Linked DNA regions of Homo sapiens. The protein of the gene in region 2 purifies or fractionates together with the protein of the main gene of each other region. This does not show direct contact. Each region holds a gene or a part of one and is shown on either strand. Other genes may lie near its edges.

Region 1 (3,505 bases), on a different chromosome or scaffold from region 2:
CTAGAAGTTTGTCAGTTTTACTGATTTTTTTTTCAGAAAAGCAAATTTTTGTGTTATTAATTTTTCCCTATAGTTTTTCTATTTCAAATTCATTGATTTCAGCTCTTTATTATTCCCTTCCTTCTGCTTGCTTTGGGTTTATTTTGGTCTTCTTTTCTAGATCCTTGATGTAGAAATTTAGGTTATTGACTTAAGACCTTCCTTTATTTCCAATGTAAACATTTAGTGTTAGAAATTTCTCTCTCAGAATTGCTTTATCTACATGGTACATATTTCAATATGTTGTGTTTTCATTTGCATTCAGTTCTACGCATTTTTAAAAAAATTCCTTTTGAGATTTCCTCTTTGATCCACGGATTATTTAGAACAGTGTTGTTTAATTTCCACGTGTTTAGATACTTTTCTGCTACAGATTTCTAGTTTCATTGCATTGTAGTCAGAGAATATACTCTGTATGATTTCAATTATTTTAAATTTGTTTAGGTTTGTTTTACGGCCAAGCACATTATCTATCTTGGTGAATGTTCTGTAGGTGCCAAAAAAAAGTGTGTTCTGCTGTTGTTGGGTGGAGTTTTCTATACAAAGAGATATAATTTAAAACCACTATGGAAAAACCAATATAAAATCGTAAAAATATTCAACTGGATCCTGTTAATTGACTGTCTTTTTCAGATCTTCCCTATATTTACTGATGTTCTGTCTAGTAGATTTATCAATTTCTGAGAGGGGGTATTGAATTTCCCAACTATAATTGTGGATTTGTCTCTTTCTTCTTTTAGCTTGATCAGTTTTTGTTCATGAATTTTGAGACATAGTTGTTTGGTGTGTACCCATTAAGGATCATTGTATCCTCCTGCTGGATTGATCCATTTATCATTAGGTAATGTCTCTGTTTATCTCTTTTAACTTTCTTTGCTCTGAAGACTATTTTATCAGATATTAATGAAGCTTCTCCAGATTTTTGAAAAATTAATACTTATGTGGTACATCTTTTTCTATATTTTTACTTGCAATCTTCCTATGTCATCAAATTTAATGTGAGTTTCTTGTGAATAGCATATAGAGTAGTTCCCCCTTATTCCAGGGAGATATATTCCAAGACCCCCAGTGGATGCCTGAAACCATGGATAGTACTGAACTCTATGTATACTATATATATTTTTCCCCCATACACACAAACCTATGATAAAGTTTAATTTATAAATTAGGCACAGTAAGAGATTAACAATGATAACTACTAATAAATAGAACAATTATACCAATGTACTGGAGTAAAAATTATGTGATTGTGTTCACACACTCACACTCTTTCTCACAAAATATCTTATTATACTGTACTATGGGTAACTGAAACCTCAGAAAGTAAAACCACAGATAAAAGGGGACTACTGTAGTGGTATTCGCATTCAATATAATTATTTAATGTAATTATTGATATATTATTCTTGTTTGCTATTTTATTATTTGTTTTTTGTTTGTTCCCTTTAGTTCTTATTCTTCTGTTTCCCTTTTCTTGCTTTTCTGATAGTTACTTGAGCATTTTTTATGATTCCATCTTGACTTATTCATAGTGTTTTAAAATATATATCTTTGTAGAGTTTTCCCAGTGGTTTCTCTGGGTATTCAACATTCATGTGTGAGTCATAACAGTCTACTCATATCAATATTTTACCACTTTGATTGAAGTGTATAAACCTCACTTCCATTTAGTTTCCTTTACCTTCCCCACTTTTAAATATCATTGTCTAGAGTATAAAATGGTGTTATAATTTTGCTTCAATTATCAAATATGATTTATAGAACTCATGAGTTAAAAGATAGTCTACTTTATGTACTTACATTTCTGCTCTTTCTGTTGTCCTTTCATCCTTCCTGATTGCTCTTTATCATTTATTCTCTGTTTGAAGAAATCCCTTTAGCTATTTTTTAACAGTATGTCTGCTAGCAACAAATCTTTTTGTTTTCCTTCAACTGAGAATTTAATTATTTCCCCTTAATTCCTGAAGGATAGTTTCACCAGATATGGATTCTATTTTCTGTCATCTCTGCTCTTCTATTGAGTCCATCAGCCAGTTTTTCATTTTTGTTATTTTATTTTACAGTTCTATAATTTATATTTGTTTTTTGGGGGGAGGGGACAAACAAGCCAGTTTTATTCAAAAAATAATTCCAAGGGGGAAAAAAGAAAACTGAGAAAGAGCCTATAGATTGTAAGGGTCTTTAGAAAAATAGTAGATAATTGCAAAGTATGTATTTTTTAAATTCTTGTTTTTAACTTAATTTTTATTTTAATTAATTAACAAATAATTATTGCATATATTTATGGGATACAATGTGATATTTTAATATATGCATACACTGTGGAATAATTACATCGAGCTAATTAACATATCCATCACCTCACGTAATTTATCCTTTTTTTTGTTTTTTGTTCTGTTTTGTTTTGTTTTCAGACAGGGTCTCACTCTGTCACCCAGGTTGGAGTGCAGTAGTGTGATCTCGGCTCACGGCAACCTCTGCCTCCCAGGCTTAAGCAATTCTCCCATCTCAGCATCCCGAGTAGCTAGGACCACAGGCACATGCCACCATGCCCAGCTAATTTTGTGTGTGTGTGTGTGTGTGTATTTTTGGTAGAAATAGGGTTTCACCACGTGGCCCAGGCTCTTCTCGAAATCCTGAGCTCAAGTGATCCACCTTCCTTGGCCTCCCAAAGTGGCGGGATTACAGGCATGAGCCACCACATCTGGCCTACCTATCTTTTGTTTCGTTTTGTTTTTTTCATAGCAGGAACATTTAAAATCTATTATTTTTTTGAATACTTTTTTGGGGAACAGGTGATGTTTGGTTACGTGGATAAGTTCATTAGTGGTGATTTCTGAGATTTTGGTGCCCCCATTACCCGAACAGTGTACACTGTACCCAATGTGTAGACTAAAATCTTATGCTTTTAGCAGTTTTGAAATGCACATACATTATTATCAACTATGGTGAGCATGCTGCAAAATAGGTCTTAAAAACTTATTCCTCTTGTCTAACTGGAACTTTGTACCCTTTGGTCAACTTCTCCCCATTTCCCACTCCCTCCAAGCCACAGTCCCTGGTAACCATTCTACTCTAATTCTGAGTTCAACTCTTTTAGATCTCACATATAAGTGAGATTATGTGGTGTTTGTCTTTCTGTGTCTGGCTTGCTTCACTTAGCATAATGTCCCCCAGGTTCATTCATGCTGTAGCAAATGACAGAATTTCCTTCTTTCTTATATTTTTATAACTTCTTTTTCTTTTCTGCAAGTTTCCTTTTTTTTCTTTATTTGTTTTAAGATAATGTTAATTGATTGTTGAGGCATTTTTATGATGGCTACTTTGAAATCCTTGTCAGATAATTCCAACATCGAACTCATCTTAATGTTGGCAGTAGTTGCCTTTTCTCAGTCAAGTTGTGATTTACTTGATTCTTGGTATGACAGATGATTTTTGATTGAACATTTTGTCTACTATGTTAGGA
Region 2 (3,505 bases):
ATGGACATTGTGATTGATCACACTATTTTATATATAACATTGAATGGAGTGGGTGAGTCCTAAGAAACATTCTCTCCTAAAAGTTTACATTTTTCATTGACTAGAAGTGACCAAAATAGATTCTACTGATGAGAAAAGACTTTTGAAAGCAGTATGGTCAGGTTGGCAGGTGAATGGCCTCAAGAGCTTAGGATTTCGTTGCTACTAAAAGAACAAGACTATTCAGTTGTGAAACAATGATTTAGTCAAATACTGATGCTGTCTCAGATGAGTAACTGCAAATCACTTCAAAAGGTAGAAGGGTAGCTTAAATGTGAAAAAGGTTACTGCCACTTCATGTAGGGAAGATAACAAGCATTTGCAAATAGCAAAATAGAAAGAAATAAATGGTTTCAGTACAAGCTCTTATATTCACTTGGCATCAAAATAGTCCAAAATAAATCTGAGAACCACGGCAAGTTATAGCTGTGTTAATGACAAAATGTGATATTTACTGTTTAAATTTAGCAGCTGGGAGAATCCCCTTATAAGGAAGACAGAAAATACGTTTATATCCAGACTGCATTACTCTTTGGAAAAATATGACCAATCAGATTTTGGGTATTATTGTTACAACCTTTTCCTTCACCTCTGCATCATGGTGATCAACTAAAGCTCTTATTTTCTGGGCACATTCTTCTCCATGTAACAGGAAAAACAATGAACCTTCAGTGAAAGTAGGCTGCACAGCTAAATGGCCTTCTATTTTGAGGCAGTTCTTTATATTCTGAAATAGCGTAAGTACTCGAAGAAGAATCTCCTTTGCTACGTGGCTGTCATAAAGGGAAAGGAATGATGAATCCACCTGAAATATGAAACAATGAGTATTATTTTATATTAATAATATATGAAAACTTTTTCATGTATATTTTAACATTTTAAAACTACATTGAATAACTCACATTTTAAAATTTTTAAATTCACATTTAAAATGTATCTCACATTAAAAAAATTTTGTCACAGAAAACCCAAAATTTCATAACTTAGATGTATAAAACCTTATGTACCCCCACGCTGTAATACTAATGGAAAAAAGGGAGTGTTTCAGCTGGAAAAATACAATTTCCTTGGAATTTTAGAATGTGGTTATTTGGGAAAAACAACCATTTTCTTTTTTAAGATCATCATACGGTTTTCATGGGAACTCATTTTTTCATCAAACATTTAGTGCCCATACACCACAGGGCACAGAGCTGGGTGGGGAATAGGGATGAGCAGATGAATACGATGGTTCCTCTTCTACAGGAGTGGAGCTCCATTCTATCCCAGCATTCAGAACACTTATCACAGCTTTTAATTACCTTGTTCACTTGTTATATATTTTTGTCTCTCCACTAGACTGTAAGCTTCGTGAGGACATGTACCATGTCACGCTGTGCTCACTGGTGTGTCTCATCTAGCATATGCTGGGGACTCAGTACTGCTGTTTCAGTGGATACTAAGATACATGTAAACACAAACAGTTCAAGTATAAAATATGGGATGGCACAATTGTACCCAAAATTGGGTAGAGAAAAAAGTTATAATTTATTGTTGCTAGGGTGAATTTTTAAAAATGTTTTTCAAAAGTAAAAGAGGCTCATTGCAAAAAATTTAGGAAATTTACACATACAAAATGAATTTAAAAAACCACCTTTAATACTGCTCCTCAGAGAGAATCCCTGTTAACATTTTAGGCTTAATCTTTCCAGATCTGTCTGTCTGTTCAAATGTATATATGTGTATATTTACAAAATAAATATATAAGCTATTTACTTGGGCACGGAGAAGTCCTTCTGTCATGGCTGGATTTTCAGACAAATTCAAAAGCAGTTTCAAAACTTGCACCTGAAAGAAGATGATACTGGCTTATCTCAGACTGGCAAGCATGAATTTTCTCTCTCAGGCATGCTGTTCTCTCACCATGTCTTCCTGTTAAAGTCCTGCCTAAGCTTCCAGGCCTGGCTCAAATTCTCTCTACTCCAGGAAACCTTCTCCGTTCATTCTACTTTAAAGGTCTCATTCTGAACTCTTATAACACTTGGCAGCACTCTTAGAGAACCTATCATAGAACAGTGTTATTTAAACCTCATTTTTCCAATTACATCGTTAGGGAGATAGAGAGAATATTGCAAATGTCTTGTACCACTCTTAGAGAACTTATCACAGAGATACAGGTTTTCTATCACACGGTTATTTAAACCTAATTTTTCCCAATTATAATGTCAGGGAGATAGAATATTGCAAATGTCTTCACAATCTACCCCCAATTCACATGCACATCTGAACAGTTGGTAAGCTTAACATCTGTTAAATACACGATCTTCATTATGATTACTGGTAAGTGAAGTATGGCCAGGCATGATGGTGTCGGCCTGTAGTCCTAGGTACTTGGGAAGCTGAGCGGGGGAGGATCTCTTGAGCCTTCCCATCTCAAGGATGTTCAAGTTCAAGGATGTAGTAAGCTATGATTGTGCCTGTGAACAGCCACTGCACTCCAGCCTGGGCAATATAGTGAGACCCTTAGACCCCATCTTCACCCCCGACAAAAAAGAAATAAAGAAATATAATCTTTAAAACAACAACAAAAAAATCTCTCAAAGCTCAGCTCATTTCTACTTAAACAGTAAAAATTTTGGAACTGTTTGGTTACCAAGACTAAATAAATAACAATATGGCCCCTTTTGGTAAGCTACCATGAATTTTTGAGGTTATCTTTTAATGTGAAAGTGTTTTACAATCATATAAATAAGCACAGTGATAAAAACTGATAGATCGGTTGATTGATTGAGATGGGGGTCTCACTATATTGCTGAAGCTGGTCTTGAACTCCTGGCCTCAAGCAATCCTCTCACTTTGGCCTCCCAAAGTAACTAGGATTACAGGCAATGAGCCACCATGCCCAGCAATGATATAAATAATAAGCAAATAAATGTTATCTAATGGGTGACTAGCTAAAATATCAGCATTCTTATCACTTATAACTGAAAAGTCAGTAATAACAAGACTCAAATAGAATGCCTCTTTTTAATTTATTAATTATTATTCTTAAGTTTTAGGGTACATGTGCACAATGTGCAGGTTAGTTACATATGTATACTTGTGCCATGCTGGTGCACTGCACCCACTAACTCGTCATCTAGCATTAGGTATATCTCCCAATGCTATCCCTCCCCCCTCCCCCCACCCCACAACAGTCCCCAGAGTGTGATGTTCCCCTTCCTGTGTCCATGTGTTCTCATTGTTCAATTCCCACCTATGAGTGAGAATATACAGTGTTTGGTTTTTTGTTCTTGCGATAGTTTACTGAGAATGATGATTTCCAATTTTGTCCATGTCCCTACAAAGGACATGAACTCATCATTTTTTATGGCTGCATAGTATTCCATGGTGTATATGTGCCACATTTTCTTAATCCAGTCTATCATTGTTGGACATTCGGGTTGGTTCCAAGTCTTTTAAAAACAAAGGCCATGTGAAACCATAC
Region 3 (3,505 bases), on a different chromosome or scaffold from region 2:
GCAGTCACTCACGCTCAGCGAGGTGATGCGCGCGCTCAGGCTGGACCACAGCCCGGCCTCGGTGAAGTCGTTGCAGCCCGACAGCTCCAGACGCACCACGCCCTGCATCTGTTCAAGCATAACCTGCAGGCGGGCGGGCGCCGGGTCAGGATTGCAGGAGAAGGGGTGGAGCCCGCAGGGAGGAAGCAGTAGGGTGTAAACATGCAGGGAGCTGAACCCTGAAAACATTTGGCAGTGTGTGAGGAGGCGGGGCATCGGGACGAGAGCCCAGGGCCTGGCCAGGGCAGGTGCTGGGGGCGTTGGCACCAGCGTTACAATTAGACTCCAGACCCGGCTGCCAGGCGGCTCCTCTGACCTCTACTCCTGGGGGATCCTTTCCCAGCTGCCCCTCAGCTCCCCCTCGCATCCTCCCCACACTGCATTTGTATTTATTTATTTATTTATTTATTCATTCATTCATTCAATCATTTTGAGACAGAGCCTTACTCTGTTGCCCAGGTCCCAGGCTGGAGTGCAGTGGCATGATCTCAGCTCACTGTACCCCCCGCCTCCCGGGTTCAAGCGATTCTCCTGCCTCAGTGTCCTCCCAAGTAGCTGGGACTACAGGTGCCCACCACCAGGCCTGGCTAATTTCTGCATTTTTAATAGAAATAGAGTTTCACCATGTTGACCAGGCTGGTCATGAACGCCTAACCTCAAGTGAGTGGCCTGCCTCGGCCTCCCATAGTGCCGGGATGACAGGCTTGAGCCACCGGGCCTGGGCCCTGCATTTAATCCACTGCCCTGCTGCTGCCATCTTGAAAATCTTGAGTGTCTTTGAACAAGGGACCCACATTTTCGCTTTGCGCGAGGTCCCCTGTAGTCAGTCCTTCTTTCCTCCCACCCCAAAGCCACCATCCGCTCCCACCTCCATAGGGTTGCTGCTGCCCGCCCCTGCCCCCCAGCCCTGTCCCCCCCGAGCCTGGTGCACACCTCGAGGCCTGCGTCCGTGATGGTGGAGCGCTTGAGGCTCATGGCTTTGACACCCTTCTTGGAGAGCGCATAGTTGTCAATGAACTCACAGATGTCCAGGTCGGAGACGCCAACCAGGCAGAAGCCCTCGAAGCCTCTGGCGGCAAAACCCTGCAGGTTCACGAACTCCTTCTCGCCACCAGGCAGCACGTTGTAGAGCTCCTTGGCATGCAGCACCGGCGTGAGGCCTGCCCAGAACTTGGGCTGGTACAGCACGCGCCGCCAGGCCTTGCACACCTGGGCCAGCACACACTTCTCGCAGGCCGAGAAATACCAGAAGAGCCCATTGAGGATCTTCTCGTCCGTGGCCAGCGGCGGCCGCTCCGCTGGGTGCCCAGGTGCCAAGGCTGAGGCTGGTCCACCTGCCGGGGTGCACGGGCCCCCAGCCAGGGCAGCCCGGGACAGTGGAGCAGCCAGGCTGGGTGGTGGGAGGGTGGGTGGGGGTGGTGGCTGGCAGGGGCGGTTCTTGGTGGCTGGCGTGCCCTTGGTGATGCTGGCCGCACCCAGGCCGTTGGGCTGGCCCGGCAGCTTCACCAGACCGTTTCGAGGCAAGCATGGAGGCTTGGGGTCGCCGTCGATGCCCGGGCTCGACATCTTCCTGGCACGCTCTGTGGATGAGGGCCGGGAGGGGGAGTGAGTCTGTTGCTGAGTCTGGAAGGCCGGGGTTGGGGGCGGGTGCAGTGGGGCTCCTTCCCTCCTTGGGCGTCCCTATGGTGCTCCCAGAACCACCAGACAGAGAGGATGGGAGTGCCTGCTTCTCCCTCCCAGACTGTGAGCAGCAACAGGAAGCCAACCATGGCCACTGGCAGCACTCACTGGGCACCTACGGTATGCACTGAGCCCAACCTTCATTGCCCATGGACACCCTCTTTTTCTTTTGTTTTTTTTCTTTTTGAAACAGAGTTCCGGCCGGGCGCGGTGGCTCATGCCTGTAATCCCAGCACTTTGGGAGGCCGAGGCGGGTGGATCATGAGGTCAGGAGATCGAGACCATCCTGGCTAACACAGTGAAACACCATCTCTTCTAAAAATACAAAAAATTAGCTGGGCATGGTGGCAGGCGCCTGTAGTACCAGCTACTTGGGAGGCTGCAGCAGGAGAATGACGTGAACCCGGGAGGCGGAGCTTGCAGTGAGCCGAGATTGCGCCACTGCACTCCAGCCTGGGCAACTGAGCAAGACTCTGTCTCAAAAAAAAAAAAAAGAAACAGTTTCACTCTTGTTGCCTGGAGCGCAGACTGGAGTGCAGAGACAGGATCTTGGCTCCCCGCAACCTCTCTGCCTCGTAGGTTCAAGTGATTCTCCTGCCTCAGCCTCCCGTGTAGCTGGGAATTCGGGCGCCCACCACCACACCCGGCTAATTTTGTATTTTTAGTAGAGATGGGGTTTCTCCATGTTGGTCAGGCTGGTCTCAAACTCCTGACCTCAAGTGATCCACCCGCCTCAGCCTCCCAAAGTCCTGGGATTATGGGAATGAGCCACCGTGCCTGACCGGAAACCTTTTTGTTTGCCCAGTGAGGCGAAGAAACGCCGACACTTTTTAGCACTTAGGTACCATGATGGCCATTTTACAGAGAAGAAAATGGAGGTGGACCTGGTGAGGCCAGGACTGCTCTCTTGACCTCTCTGCTGTGCCGTCCACTGTAGGTACCCACCAGGCCCACCCCTCTGGGCAGGCCAGGGGAACTGAAGGGAAGGGTCTGGGGTGGCCTCTGGCCCCTCCCCTGCAGGGTGACTGCACAGCGCTCAGGAGGGGCTCTGGTGCTGACTCTGCAGCCACCCTCCACATGCACAGGAGCTTCCCTGGCTCAGAATCTACCCAAGGGGCTGGGTGCAGTGGCTGATGCCTGTAATTCTAGCACTTTGGGAGGCTGAGGTGGGTGGATTACAAGGTCAGGGGTTTGAGACCACCTGGCCAACATGGTGAAACCCCTTCTCTACTAAAAATACAAAAATTAGCCGGGCTTGGTGGCAGGCTCCTGTAATCCCAGCTACTTGGGAGGCTGAGGCAGGAGAATCACTTGAATCCAGGAGGCGGAGGTTGCAGCGAGCCGAGATCACACCACTGTACTCCAGCCTGGGGAACAGAGTGAGACTTTGTCTCAAAAAAAAAAAAAAAAAAAGAAAGAAAGAAAGAAAAAGAAAAAAAGAAAAGAAAAAGAAAAAAGAATCCATGCAAAGAAAGGGCGGGCATCTTCCCAGGGTGTGCTGTGGTGCCAGCATGGTTAGCCCTGGACACAAGCTGTCGCTTTAATCTTCTGCCCAATGAGAACGATGCTGTGATAGCTGTACCCACTGCACAGATGAGGAAACTGAGGCCAAGGCTGGGCAAACTGCCTGCCCGAGGTCATGGCCAGATAAGTGGTGAAGCCAAAGTTCGGGCAGAGCTGGCTGAGGAAGGCCATGCGGAGGTTATCTTCAGGCCAGCGACATCCACGCACAGGGTGGAGTGGGAGCAGTCCCGGGCACCCTCCTCAGGCCTCCAGTCTGTAAGTG
Region 4 (3,505 bases), 7.8 Mb from region 2:
GTGGACAAGACAATCTTGAATGTCAACAAGGTACTTAAATGCAAAATGATTATCCTTTTAGACTTAATACAATGCACTAGCATTGTGGGTAGCCAGGCAAAAAATCTGAAGTATCACATAAATATATTTGATATTTCTGAAGTATCACATAGATATATTTGTGCTGAATTTAGATAAACACTTATTGAAATGGTTCATGTGGCCATAATTCTGCAATTAAGAACCAATGGATATGCCCAAGGCTAGATGGAGGCTATAATTGGAGTAAGACCAATATAAACTAATTGTGCAATTTTTCTTCCATCTCAATTCTTGGCATATCACTTTAGCTCAAAGATACTGACCACTGATTTTGGTTAACAATAGAAGAGGGGGCCAGAAAGTTTAGGTATAGAAATACACGTGTTCTTAATCACACAACCGTACCTGCTACCTGCAGAAAACCTACTGGCTTCTTTTTCTTTTTCTTTCCACTTCTTTCCCTTGCTGGAATTCCTTCGCAAAGGCGCCCTGTAATGATAGTAAGCAGTCAGAAAGGGGAAGCTGAAATTTTCTCTTTCAATCCTCCTTTTACAGAGGGCTTTCTTTTTACATCGTGAAGTGCTTACCCCAGATCCACAAACTTCCGCTTAATTTTTCCTCCTTGCACCGCCAATGAACTGGATGCCCTTAGTGATTTGGGATCTTTGGCATCATCTAGGATATACACATTTGTGAAAAAGATCAATTATTATTATTTTTAAAGTCACAATTCAAAAGTCAATGCATCTCTGAATCTAAGGGCTTTGCCTAAATTCCTAATTGTAAAATAAATAATCAATGCCTTCTTATACGACCTAGGAGACACAGTTACATTGAGGAACTCGCAGTTAAGCAGGGGAGGTCCTCTATAGGACAGAGGCTCAACATTCATCACAAAGAGTTTTAGCTTCAACTGCATGGGAATGAACAAGGGAGAATAAATACTCTCAAATCATCCTCTGCATTCGAAGTAGGGACCAACATGACTTTTGTTCCTTCTCTGGCTCCAAATTCTTGGCTTCAAGTGCCTGGGCTCTGTCCTCCATTCCTTTCTTGCCTTGGGGTTGTAGTGCCTTCTAACAGGAACATAGCCCACTTCTCCCGTATCTCCAAAGCCCAGCGCAGAATATCACCTCTGAGAGTCTGGGAGATTTAGGGGGAAAGTCAGAGTCAAAGTTTTCTTCTCTGGCTCTCCTTTGCTAATGGCCTGTGGCCGGTCCTGGAACAGAGGAGGGGAGGACATGGGGGAGACTCCTTAAACAGGGGCTCAGCTACAAAACATTTATATCTTTGAAAGGGCCTTCTTAATAGTTAGGTTACAGCAAAACTTGGCTGGTTCCCCTTAATGTGGAAGATGCCAAAATCTCCTCAGTGTTCAGAGCAGACTGATCTTTGCCTCTAGGACTCTCAAAGGTAGCAGCTGCTGGGGAATGGGGACCCTCGAAATGATACCAAAAGCCAATAGGAAGACAGGCTTTGCAAATGGAGTTCAATGTCAAGGTGGGAACCAATTCCACTGGTGGCACTTGTTCCATCTCGGACAGGCTCTACCCAAACTATTCAGCAGAGGGTACTGATCGGCATCACGTTTCAGCATATCCAATTAGCTCAGATGATTAACAAATGCTGTTTTAAATTTGATGTTTTTTATGTGTGAAACTCTTCCTCCCCAGTTCTTTTTTGGTATCTGTTTTTCTGTCTCTTATCTTTTAAAATGTGTTTTAAATTTCTAGGAACTTTCTAGTATGGAAGGCAAAGAGAATGGCCCTCTTAAAAAAGTGTTCAATTAACTTTGCAGGTTAATGTTGCTCATGATTTTTGTTTACTTCAAGAGAAATTTCTCAACACACATCGACATACACCTTTAAAAAACATGAAGTACACACACAGTTCATGGATAGCAGTCTAGGTTCAAAGCTCTCAAGCAGCACAGGACACTGACAAATACTCCAAATGTTTTTAGCAATGAGCTTTTCATATTTTTAGTTAATGATACTTAGATTACAATAAGCAACTCACTGAAATGTACATAATGAAACACAAGAGTCAGAAATATGTCTGTGTCAAAAATCCACTTCAAGCCTCAAATATTTATTATGCATATTTGCATCATTACTCTTTGGGTAACTGAATTGTCACAGATGTGACACAATCATATAAAAAAATCCATAGACATAGACATGGCACAAACACCTTCTAAGGTGATTTTACTAATGGATTTTATTTTTAAAAGCAAGATTTAAATTTTCTTAATAGAAGCTGAAGAAAAGAAAGTGCCAAATTCTTCCAGATCAATCCTAAAGCAACTCTTAATGGCTAGGACTATGCAAAGTTAAAAGGAGACTGCCTAATTATTTCCTGAATGAGAGGTAGCTGGGAGATGTTACAATGAGCGCTGAGAAGACCAGCTGAGGCAATGTACACGAAAACACTCTGTAACCCATGAGTGTTGCAGTTATTTGGACATCATGCGACTAAAAGCCTGATTCTGCCTATCACAGAGCTTGGTGCTAGGCAACCTTACATCTTTATCTCACACATTTGCCAAAGTGCGTTCCCAGGAACACTGAAATGAATGCTTCCATAGGGCTGAAGATGTTAAGAATAAGGAATAATGTACTTTCCCATTTAAAATCGATTAAATCCATCTTTAATGCACACTAGAACTTCTAGTCTGCATAAAATCCAACATTAGATTGGTATGATTTCAGGAAAAAAGAAACATACATTTTGTTTATTTAGCTCTACGTAAGACTTCTGTTAGGCTTTTTAAAATCTCTCCAATACTACCTTTGTGACCAATTATACATCTGAGCCCCCAGATTGGGTGCCTCAACTTTAAGCTGTGGCAACCTGGTTTTCATTTTCAAATAATAAATGATCTCCTGATGGCCAAATCCTAAGGTCTTGTACTGGACTGCATCTCCTTAATCTCACTGTAATAAGATACTTGACTATCTCTTCCTTTATAATGGGGACTCCCAAATCTACCTGGCAGTCCTGACCTCTCTCTTGCGCTCATGACCTCCTCTGTTAAAAAAATGAGTTAATCCTATTTCCCCCATCATGTTGCTGATTTCCTATTTTCTGTTAATGACAAGACCATATGTTCTGAGGCGTGAAGCCCATGATAGTTTTGCCTCACTTTCTTACCTGTTACCTAGTCAAGGTATGTCTCAAGGGTCCTTGAATCATTCTTTCCTGTCACTGTCTACTGCTCCTCTTTAGAGGGCACCACCTCATAGGGTCTCCTAACTCAGCTTCTCCATACCTGGTGGTGTCTTTTCCTTTTTATTCCTCTGGTCAAACTTCTTGTGGTTTCCTAGTAATATGGCAAGTTATCTAAGATGTTTAACTTCTAAAGCTATATACTTAACCTACTGGCTCACTTTTGTGTGTAACTACTCCACCCTGCATAAGCAAACTGCTACAGCCAGGCTGGGATAGCCTTGTACCTTTAAATCATATGATATGTGCCTGTCTC

Evidence for each region.
Region 1: the proteins of ARMC10 (region 2) and VSIG1 purify together in Homo sapiens (co-immunoprecipitation; one large-scale study listed by IntAct). This does not show direct contact.
Region 3: the proteins of ARMC10 (region 2) and FBXL16 purify together in Homo sapiens (co-immunoprecipitation; one large-scale study listed by IntAct). This does not show direct contact.
Region 4: the proteins of ARMC10 (region 2) and PPP1R9A purify together in Homo sapiens (affinity purification with mass spectrometry; one large-scale study listed by BioGRID and IntAct). This does not show direct contact.

Annotation. Positions count from the first base shown.
Region 1 is NC_000023.11:108,051,561-108,055,065, reverse strand, and holds part of VSIG1 (V-set and immunoglobulin domain-containing protein 1 isoform 2 precursor), read right to left. Parts: intron 1-3,505.
Region 2 is NC_000007.14:103,095,638-103,099,142, reverse strand, and holds part of ARMC10 (armadillo repeat-containing protein 10), read right to left. Parts: intron 1,867-3,505; coding exon 1,795-1,866; intron 845-1,794; coding exon 590-844; 3' UTR 1-589. UniProt on the Homo sapiens protein: May play a role in cell survival and cell growth. May suppress the transcriptional activity of p53/TP53.
Region 3 is NC_000016.10:695,801-699,305, forward strand, and holds part of FBXL16 (F-box/LRR-repeat protein 16), read right to left. Parts: intron 1,620-3,505; 5' UTR 1,606-1,619; coding exon 973-1,605; intron 124-972; coding exon 1-123. UniProt on the Homo sapiens protein: Substrate-recognition component of the SCF (SKP1-CUL1-F-box protein)-type E3 ubiquitin ligase complex.
Region 4 is NC_000007.14:95,271,090-95,274,594, reverse strand, and holds part of PPP1R9A (neurabin-1), read right to left. Parts: intron 697-3,505; coding exon 609-696; intron 511-608; coding exon 427-510; intron 1-426. UniProt on the Homo sapiens protein: Binds to actin filaments (F-actin) and shows cross-linking activity. Binds along the sides of the F-actin. May be involved in neurite formation. Inhibits protein phosphatase 1-alpha activity.